2 linked regions of the Homo sapiens genome follow. The protein of the gene in region 1 interacts with the protein of each later gene in a pairwise test. Each region holds a gene or a part of one and is shown in the gene's direction. Other genes may lie near its edges.

Region 1 (7,000 bases):
AAATAAGGAAGAATCATCTGAGGCAGCCATGGACATTTGAAAATATTAAAACTAAGCAGAACTGAAGGAAATAGAGACACAAAAAACCCTTCAAAAAATCAATGAATCCAGGAGCTGGTTTTTTGAAAGGATCAACAAAATTGATAGACCGCTAGCAAGACTAATAAAGAAAAAAAGAGAGAAGAATCAAATAGACACAATAAAAAATGATAAAGGGGATATCACCACCGATCCCACAGAAATACAAACTACCATCAGAGAATACTACAAACACCTCTACGCAAATAAACTAGAAAATCTAGAAGAAATGGATACATTCCTCGACACATACACTCTCCCAAGACTAAACCAGGAAGAAGTTGAATCTCTGAATAGACCAATAACAGGCTCTGAAATTGTGGCAATAATCAATAGTTTACCAACCAAAAAGAGTCCAGGACCAGATGGATTCACAGCCGAATTCTACCAGAGGTACATGGAGGAACTGGTACCATTCCTTCTGAAACTATTCCAATCAATAGAAAAAGAGGGAATCCTCCCTAACTCATTTTATGAGGCCAGCATCATTCTGATACCAAAGCCGGGCAGAGACACAACCAAAAAAGAGAATTTTAGACCAATATCCTTGATGAACATTGATGCAAAAATCCTCAATAAAATACTGGCAAACCGAATCCAGTTGCACATCAAAAAGCTTATCCACCATGATCAAGTGGGCTTCATCCCTGGGATGCAAGGCTGGTTCAATATACGCAAATCAATAAATGTAATCCAGCATATAAACAGAGCCAAAGACAAAAACCACATGATTATCTCAATAGATGCAGAAAAAGCCTTTGACAAAATTCAACAACCCTTCATGCTAAAAACTCTCAATAAATTAGGTATTGATGGGACGTATTTCAAAATAATAAGAGCTATCTATGACAAACCCACAGCCAATATCATACTGAATGGGCAAAAACTGGAAGCATTCCCTTTGAAAACCGGCACAAGACAGGGATGCCCTCTCTCACCGCTCCTATTCAACATAGTGTTGGAAGTTCTGGCCAGGGCAATCAGGCAGGAGAAGGAAATAAAGGGTATTCAATTAGGAAAAGAGGAAGTCAAATTGTCCCTGTTTGCAGACGACATGATTGTATATCTAGAAAACCCCATCGTCTCAGCCCAAAATCTCCTTAAGCTGATAAGCAACTTCAGCAAAGTCTCAGGATACAAAATCAATGTACAAAAATCACAAGCATTCTTATACACCAACAACAGACAAACAGAGAGCCAAATCATGGGTGAACTCCCATTCGTAATTGCTTCAAAGAGAATAAAATACCTAGGAATCCAACTTACAAGGGATGTGAAGGACCTCTTCAAGGAGAACTACAAACCACTGCTCAAGGAAATAAAAGAGGACACAAACAAATGGAAGAACATTCCATGCTCATGGGTAGGAAGAATCAATATCGTGAAAATGGCCATACTGCCCAAGGTAATTTACAGATTCAATGCCATCCCCATCAAGCTACCAATGACTTTCTTCACAGAATTGGAAAAAACTACTTTAAAGTTCATATGGAACCAAAAAAGAGCCCGCATTGCCAAGTCAATCCTAAGCCAAAAGAACAAAGCTGGAGGCATCACACTACCTGACTTCAAACTATACTACAAGGCTACAGTAACCAAAACAGCATGGTACTGGTACCAAAACAGAGATATAGATCAATGGAACAGAACAGAGCCCTCAGAAATAATGCCGCATATCTACAACTATCTGATCTTTGACAAACCTGAGAAAAACAAGCAATGGGGAAAGGATTCCCTATTTAATAAATGGTGCTGGGAAAACTGGCTAGCCATATGTAGAAAGCTGAAACTGGATCCCTTCCTTACACCTTATACAAAAATCAATTCAAGATGGATTAAAGATTTAAACGTTAAACCTAAAACCATAAAAACCCTAGAAGAAAACCTAGGCATTACCATTCAGGACATAGGCGTGGGCAAGGACTTCATGTCCAAAACACCAAAAGCAATGGCAACAAAAGACAAAATTGACAAATGGGATCTAATTAAACTAAAGAGCTTCTGCACAGCAAAAGAAACTACCATCAGAGTGAACAGGCAACCTACAACATGGGAGAAAATTTTCGCAACCTACTCATCTGACAAAGGGCTAATATCCAGAATCTACAATGAACTCAAACAAATTTACAAGAAAAAAACAAACAACCCCATCAAAAAGTGGGTGAAGGACATGAACAGACACTTCTCAAAAGAAGACATTTATGCAGCCAAAAAACACATGAAGAAATGCTCATCATCACTGGCCATCAGAGAAATGCAAATCAAAACCACTATGAGATATCATCTCACACCAGTTAGAATGGCAATCATTAAAAAGTCAGGAAACAACAGGTGCTGGAGAGGATGCGGAGAAATAGGAACACTTTTACACTGTTGGTGGGACTGTAAACTAGTTCAACCATTGTGGAAGTCAGTGTGGCGATTCCTCAGGGATCTAGAACTAGAAATACCATTTGACCCAGCCATCCCATTACTGGGTATATACCCAAATGAGTATAAATCATGCTGCTATAAAGACACATGCACACGTATGTTTATTGCGGCACTATTCACAATAGCAAAGACTTGGAACCAACCCAAATGTCCAACAATGATAGACTGGATTAAGAAAATGTGGCACATATACACCATGGAATACTATGCAGCCATAAAAAATGATGAGTTCATATCCTTTGTAGGGACATGGATGAAATTGGAAACCATCATTCTCAGTAAACTATCGCAAGAACAAAAAACCAAACACCGCATATTCTCACTCATAGGTGGGAATTGAACAATGAGATCACATGGACACAGGAAGGGGAATATCACACTCTGGGGACTGTGGTGGGGTCGGGGGAGGGGGGAGGGATAGCATTGGGAGATATACCTAATGCTAGATGACACATTAGTGGGTGCAGCGCACCAGCATGGCACATGTATACATATGTAACTAACCTGCACAATGTGCACATGTACCCTAAAACTTAGAGTATAATAAAAAAAAAAAAAAAAAAAAAAAAAAAAAAAAAAAAAGAAAATATTAAAACTAAGTTTTGTGGTAAAGACTAACACAGGGGCAGTCCAGAGGAGACTGATGTTGGTGAGGGTGAGCAACATCACAAACCCTACCTGGCATTTTCTGAGCCATTATTATGTACCAGCTTTTGTGCTAAGTGCTGTACCTGTATTAAACTGTTTTATTTCCAGTATTCTTGAAGATAGGATACCACAATTTTCCCATTTTATAGATGTGAAAAAGGCACAGAGAGGGTAAGTCATATGGCTAATGCCACAGGTTTTAAGTGGCAGAATCAGAATTTGAACTCAGGCACATCTTTTCTAGACTAATGCTAGTTTGAGTTTTTTGGGAAGAGGTAAAGTTTGAATTGGGCTATAAAGGCCAGGTGGCAGGGGCAGGAGAGAACATTCCAGAGAGTGGTAGACGGGAACCACAGGAACAGCTCCATGTGGGCAAATGGACACTGCTCGGACTGGCTGGGGTGATAGGACAGAGTGAGTGTACTGCGTTGGTGCATAGTGGGGAGAGGGAAAGCAAAGCTGGATAGGAAAAGTGGGGTGGTTTTATGGCACCTGGAAAACCAGGCAGGTTGAGACTTGATGGTGATCTGGTAGCCCATGTTTCTGTCATACACATGGGCCTCACAGGGGTTAGTAAGAACTATGGGAAGGACTTGGGGATTTCTGTGGGCAGAGCCAGGGGCACAGGCTGATCATGTGTTCAGCAGCTGTGAAGAGAGTGGTTTGGGCTGAAGGTGGGCCTGGAGCCCAGACAGAAAAGGTTGCCACTTTCCATACCCCTGAGAATTGCCAGAGTGCAGCCTGGCTCTGGGGTTAATGCAGGCCTGGGGAGAGCAGTGCCTGCTGTAACTTCAGACAAAGGCTGGAATCTGTAAAAGGCTGGAAGCAAGCATGACCCATATGAAACTGTATTTTTTATACCTGTGCCATGCCAGCCATGCCAAGCAACTTAGTAACTGCACCATGAATAGAATTTGTACCCTGCATACTACTTGCTGTCTTTAAAAATATACTCGGGGTTCCTACAATGTCCATGCAGAGTACCATGAGTGATGAGAAATGTGTAACTTTCTTGATTTTGATTTTTAAAAGCTAGATGAACCCATTTGCCCCTCAACTGCTTTTGGGGCTTGTGGTGGAGCTTCCTAATAGAGGGAGCGGGCAAGCCCAGACAAGTGGGGTCTTAGTGGCAATGCCCCAGTAATTTCCAGTTCGGGAACTCATCAGCTTTCTTGTGTATCTCTTCATTTGATCCTCATGTCCACTTAAAATTGCCTGTGAGGTTGCTCACAGTTAGTACAGAGACTTCTGAATCAGTTTTTTTTTTTTGCATTTTTCCCACCCCCAGTGGAATTTAGTAGCACAGATATTACTGTATTGGCCCTTTGGTGGGACAAAACTCATTGTAATGTCTAAGATTTTTTATTCCCCCACCAAAAACTAATTTTTGCCTCTTGGGGGAGGTGATAGCACCCACACTGAGAACACGTGCTCTAAATAACGCCAGCTTGTCCACAGAGAAGCCCATCAATGAGAAAAGGGAACATAGTCTTGTGGGTAAGAACTGCATCCCGGTTAGAGTCCCAAGTCCTGTGCTGTTTCCCTTTGATCCTAGTGGAGCAGCTTAACCTCTTGTAGCTCAATTTCTTGATTTGCTAAATGGGAGTACTAGAATTAGCTAACAGGGCTGCTGAGTATCTGATGAGCTATCGCATGCTCAGGCAATTAGCAGAGGCTCCCCTCGAGTGGTTTTTGTATCTTTACCTTTCCCCCAATACAGATCGACCTTGCCATCGATGGTGCTGATGAAGTAGATGCTGATCTCAATCTCATCAAGGGTGGCGGGTGAGTGTTGTGGGGGCTTCTGTGCTAAAGAGTATCTGCCAGTTAATCCTTAGCAAAGCAAGATGGATACAGAATAAACAAATTGCCACTGTGACATATGCAAGTTTGTCTTTCTCCTAGGATATTGATAGCATATGGCCTTAGACCCAACTCAGCATTTCTGGTCATTAGCAGCAATTTACTGACAAGGAACCTGGGCCTCTTTAGTGAGATCATTCATCGTAATGGATTCTCTGTGGATTTGTGTTCTTTTGTTGATTCAGACTTTAAAAACTTAAGGCCAAATCAAAATAATACTGGGCTAGATTGTTAGGTCTGTGGGCACCAGTGTGTGACTTTTGCTTTAAAGCTGTGCTTACTTCTGTGAGCAGTTAGGGATATTATTTGTTCCTTTGGAAAACATTAATTGGGTATTTCTTAAGTGCTGATTTGGGGAGTGGTGGGAATGGTGAGTTGAAAAAGGTGAAATCCTGTTCTGCTGGTTCTTATAATCAAGCAGACTATTGAGTGATGCAGCATTTGTTTAAAATCACACTTTACTGTTTATTAGATTTTCTTACGTGTTACTTAATCCTGTCAACTGCAGATGTGAGATAGTTTAGCTGCTAAACCCTAGAGGTAGACCTGGACCCAAATCTGCTGATTCAGTGCTCTGGGCTCTCTCCACTTCATCACCCTCATTGGCAAGTAGTCGACTGGGCGGGTTGTTCAAAGCGTGCCCTCCTCAGCTTCTAGACCCTCCCATTCATGCCATGTCCAGATGACATCTCCCTGAACACAATGCTCCCTCTCAGACACATTTGGATGGAATTATGCCTGGCCTGAATGGGAACCTTGTCTGCTTTCTAGGTTTCTCCCAGACAGGGGTAATGTTTCTAGAGTCCATTTACTAGGAGCAGCATGATGGGACTGGGGATGTCCCTTTAAAAATTAAAAGTTAAGTTTCTCTTTAAGTGCCAGGATTGAGTGGATTTGGGATTCCTGTATTTAACCTTAGTTCCCAAACTGAGATTTTTGTCTTACTCCTGTGTTCCTTTGCTTCTTTCCTGCAGAGGCTGCCTGACCCAGGAGAAGATTGTGGCTGGCTATGCTAGTCGCTTCATCGTGATCGCTGATTTCAGGTACAGTTTCTGGTGTCTGAGCTGCCAACTGAGGAGGTAGATTGGATCCCCAAGCCGCATCCCCATTTTTGTGAAAGAGGAAATGGAGAGCTGCAGGGACTGTCTGACTTTCTGAGACTGATGGCTAGGACTTAGTACAGTGTCTAGGAGACCTTATGTTCTGCTTGTAGGCTGAAGGTAGATGTTGCTAATCACAGCACTGTTATCCGCAGCCAGGATCTCTAGCATCGTTTCATGTGTTCAGTGGAACGGGGAAACAGCTTGTCACCCTGTTAGCAGAGCATGCTCTCATGTGTCATGTCACTCACTGGATCCTCACAGGGAGCCTCAGAGGAGGCAGGGTGTGCCCTGCCCACGGGCAGTGACTCAGCATACCCTGCTTCTTCTCGGGTCAGGGTTTGCCGCAGGTGACTGGTGTCATTGATAGTCTTTGACCAGGCTCTCAGATGCTCCTTCAAGGAATGTAGTCAAAAGCACTTGTGCTGAGCATGTTAATTTCAAATATGTGTATGTGTATATTTACTTGTGAAATATAGCCACAGGACGAGCATAAATATTAAACACCTACATACCCACAAGCCAGCAATATCAGATTTTAACATTTTTGTCATATTTATTTCAAATAGCTCTTTTCCTATATAGTGAAACAGCTAATTCATTTGTAGCCCCATGTATATTGCCCTTGATCACTTTCCTTGCCTTCCCACCATCTCATTAACCCTGTTCCTGAATTTGGTGTTTGCCTGTACTGTTGAGCTTATTTACTTTTATTGTACTTTCTGACTCCTTCTTTCCAGGAAAGATTCGAAGAATCTCGGGGATCAGTGGCACAAGGGAATCCCCATCGAGGTCATCCCAATGGCCTATGTCCCAGTGAGCCGAGCTGTGAGCCAGAAGTTTGGGGGCGTGGTTGAACTTCGAATGGCTGTCAACAA
Region 2 (3,718 bases), on another chromosome or scaffold:
TTTCTTTTCCTTTTTTAAAGTATTTTTTAGACAGAGAGGATAGTTGGAAAAATGGTACCTATGTTGTTGAGGGGGCATTAATTTATTTACAGTATACTTAATGTCTTGCAGCAGGTAAATTGTAGTAAATTATTATTATTATTATTGTTTTCTGAGATGGAGTCTCGCTCTGTCGCTCAGGCTGGAGTGCAGTGGCGTGATCTCAGCTTGCTGCAACCTCCGCCTCCCTGGTTTAAGCGATTCTCCTGCCTCAGCCTCCCGAATAGCTAGGATTACAGGTGCATGCCACCACACCCGGCTAATTATTTGTATTTTTAGTAGAGACGAGGTTTCACCATGTTAGCCAGGATGGTCTCGATCTCCTGACCTCATGATCCGCCCGCCTTGGCCTCCCAAAGTGCTGGGATTACAGGTGTGAGCCACTGCCCCTGGCAAATTGTAGTAAATTATTTAAAAATAACAATATCTTTGGCTTGGGCATGGTGGCTCACACCTGTAATCCCAGCACTTTGGGAGGCTGAGGTGGGCAGATCACTTGAGGTCAGGAGTTCGAGACCAGCCTGAGCAACGTGGTGAAACCCTGTCTCTACTAATAATACAAAAAAAATTTAGCCGGGTATGGTGGTGCCTGCCTGTAATCCCAGCGACTCGGGAGGCTGAGGCAGGAGAATTGCTGGAACCTGGGAGGCAGAGGTTGCAGTGAGCCATGATCACACCACTGCACTCCAGCCTAGGTGACAGAGCGAGACTCTGTCTCAAAAAAAAAAAAAAAAAAAAAAAGCCAAAACAAGAAAAACAATATCTTCAGTTCATATTCTAAAAAGCAGAAGTGAATTTTACTTTATGAATAGAGCACTTTGCAAATAATTCTTTGTTGACCAAATATTTTAATGCCTGCATGAGTTAAGTAAAAGCTGTTCTATGAGAATTATAACATTGTTATTTGGAAGAATATATTAAGAGGAAGCAGACTTATGATTTGTCATTTAATAGATAATCCAATACTATAGGATAAAGGCAGCTTATTGGAGAAATGATTTTAAAAATATTTTCTTGCACAATTTACAAAATTTAGTTTAAAAAAATTGTCCAGTAATTTACCCCCACTTACTTGTGAAATTATGAGCTCTTTATTTCTTCTTCCCTTCAAATTTATCTTAACAACTTTTTCAAAACTTTTAACTTTAATTTTTATTGCCAACAAGTTGCTAGGATAGTACAAATAACTCCTAAATCTCTTCATCCAGAGTCATCAATTATTATCATTTTTCTACATTTCTTTCCCCTCTTTCTATATATACATATATGTAATTTTTTTCCTTTTTCTTAAACCACTTGAGACTTAATTATCAATATCATGCTTCTTTACCCCTAAAGTTCTTGTTTTTGTCACTCACATTACCTTCAGCTATGAGGCTTGTGGGCTTCTCTCGTGGTTTTATTCATTTTTTCACTTTTAACAGTTTTACTGAGGTATAACTGAGATACCATACAGTTTATTTTAGACTGCATTTTTATTCCTTCCTTCCTCTCACTGGCAGTTGCTGGTACAGTGCTGCACCTGGCTGAGTGAATGGTTTCTTTTGGAGCTGATAAAGCTGCCTTATGAAATCAGCTGACAGGTATATTATACCTACAGATGATGCCTTTTCTCTCAGAGCGCTTGGGTTGAGATTGACCCACTCCACAATTGCTAGTGGACATTCTGAGCAAAAGACCACATTTCTGTCCAATTTTGTGAATGTAACTATCAACTCATTTGAACTCTAAAACACTTAAGTTGTCATTTTACTATAGTGTAAAGATGACCGTAGATCTAAAAGATATTTTTTCTGAATTTTGACATTGAAGGAAGAAATCTATTTTTAGAAATCAAAAATGAAGAACTCACGCCCTTTAGGTTGCATACTTGGTTCTGGAGTGGCATGGAAGATGTTTGGAATGGCTGACCCTCTGTTGCTTTCACTTGGGTTGTTTGCATTTTTATTTTTTAAATATATTGCTTGGTGATCAGCGCATTTTTATTGACTTAATAGTTGTGTCTAAACTATTATAAAGCCAAATTGGGTAGTGTGTAACTCCTACTAATGTATTTCTCTCTTTTTTCCTCACAGGGATGAATTGTAAAAGCAACATCAGCTTGACCAGTATAAAATTACAGTGGATTGCTCATCTCAGTCCTCAAAGCTTTTTGAAAACCAACACCATCACAGCTTGTTTTGGACTTTGTTACACTGTTATTTTCAGCATGAAAATGTGTGTTTTTTTAGGGTTTCTGATTCTTCAAAGAGGCACAGAGCCAAATTGGTAGAGGAAGGATGCAAAGTATAAATTTGTGTAATATTACTTTAACATGCCCATATTTTACTTGGAAATATTAAAAGAAAGGGTTCTGTAAAATGGAAAACTTAGTTTGTGAATTGATTTTGAGGAGTGGTTTTTCTTTTCTTGGACACTTAATTCTGTTCTGATATTAATTTATCAGATTGCTTTTGTGCATTGGATAACACCACCATTCACAAGTTAAGATTCTTGGTATTTGGATATCTGTTAGATGCTACTAAGAAAATAGAGATGAGCTTTCTTTTTAAAGCTTTTGATGTGGTGTCATAGAATAGCATGTTGTAGATACAATCAGCTGCTTTGTTACCTTAAAACTAGGCATTTGTAAATATTAAACCATAAGATGGCAGGTGATGTCCTGTAAACACTCAGCTGTTCAGATTGGACATAACTGACTTAGTTCTTCCCTTCTCTCTCTCTCAAAATTATAGGAGACTTGTAGTTTAGTGTGGTTTTCTGTTTCTAATTTGCTGCTGATAATGTATATGAACTTAACATGCTGTGTAAGCTGTGTCCTAGTTCTTGAACAGTTTATGCAGTGCTGCTTTGCCAAATAAAGTTAAAAGTAAAAGAGGCATTGGTTGTTTTTGAATATAGAAGGAAGAACAGCAAGTCCACCAGATAGGGAGTGTTTACGATCATGGGAAAAAGACTGTTTCTCTGGTTGTTTCCTTTTGCGAAGTCTGAGTAAGTAATTAGCATTAATCCAACTGTACATTGTAGAATGTGACTACACTGCTCCAGGGCCAGGACCGTACTTCAGTCGTCATTTCTCTTTGACTCCCTAGCCCAGGGCTTGCCCTGTAGTAGCTATACAGTAAATGCTGGTGAGTGAGTGAGTGGTGAATGAATCGACTTAAAGTCAGGAAAGAACAGGATTGAGGGTGAACAGACCAAAACCCATCTCTCACCTATACAAAGATTTATTAATATAATGACTATAGCTGAATTTCTAAGAAGGCAGTAGCACTTTGGGATCTTATTTAAATGTTGTGATTTATAACTTTTATAAGAAGTAGTTCTGGAACTGAGGAAATATAAGCTCCAGAATGAGCAGAATCAGCACTCCCAGCAAAGCCCTTCTACTGGGTGCATGTGTGGGTGCGTAATTCTGGCAAAGAACCTTCGTGGGCATGTGAACACTCCCCCCAGCTCTTGAAAAAAGTCTTAAATATTACTTCTTTACAAATGGCTTTTAGGCTGGGTGCGGTGGCTCACGCCTGTAATCCCAGCACTTTGGGAGGCTGAGATGGGCAGATCACCTGAGGTCAGGAGTTCAAGACCAGCCTGGCCAACATGATGAAATCCCCTCTCTACCCCTCTCTACTAAAAATACAAAAATTAGCTGGGCATGGTGGCACACACCTGTAATCCC

What was found.
Region 2: the proteins of RPIA (region 1) and PCMT1 interact in binary tests that used the Homo sapiens proteins (3 or more experiments, as listed by UniProt).

Annotation. Positions count from the first base shown.
Region 1 is NC_000002.12:88,729,673-88,736,672, forward strand, and holds part of RPIA (ribose-5-phosphate isomerase), read left to right. Parts: intron 1-4,879; coding exon 4,880-4,944; intron 4,945-5,530; coding exon of another isoform or gene 5,531-5,546; exon of another isoform or gene 5,547-5,627; intron 5,628-5,996; coding exon 5,997-6,065; intron 6,066-6,862; coding exon 6,863-7,000. UniProt on the Homo sapiens protein: Catalyzes the reversible conversion of ribose-5-phosphate to ribulose 5-phosphate and participates in the first step of the non-oxidative branch of the pentose phosphate pathway.
Region 2 is NC_000006.12:149,808,502-149,812,219, forward strand, and holds the end of PCMT1 (protein-L-isoaspartate(D-aspartate) O-methyltransferase), read left to right. Parts: intron 1-2,114; coding exon of another isoform or gene 2,115-2,127; 3' UTR 2,128-2,918; downstream 2,919-3,718. UniProt on the Homo sapiens protein: Initiates the repair of damaged proteins by catalyzing methyl esterification of L-isoaspartyl and D-aspartyl residues produced by spontaneous isomerization and racemization of L-aspartyl and L-asparaginyl residues in aging peptides and proteins.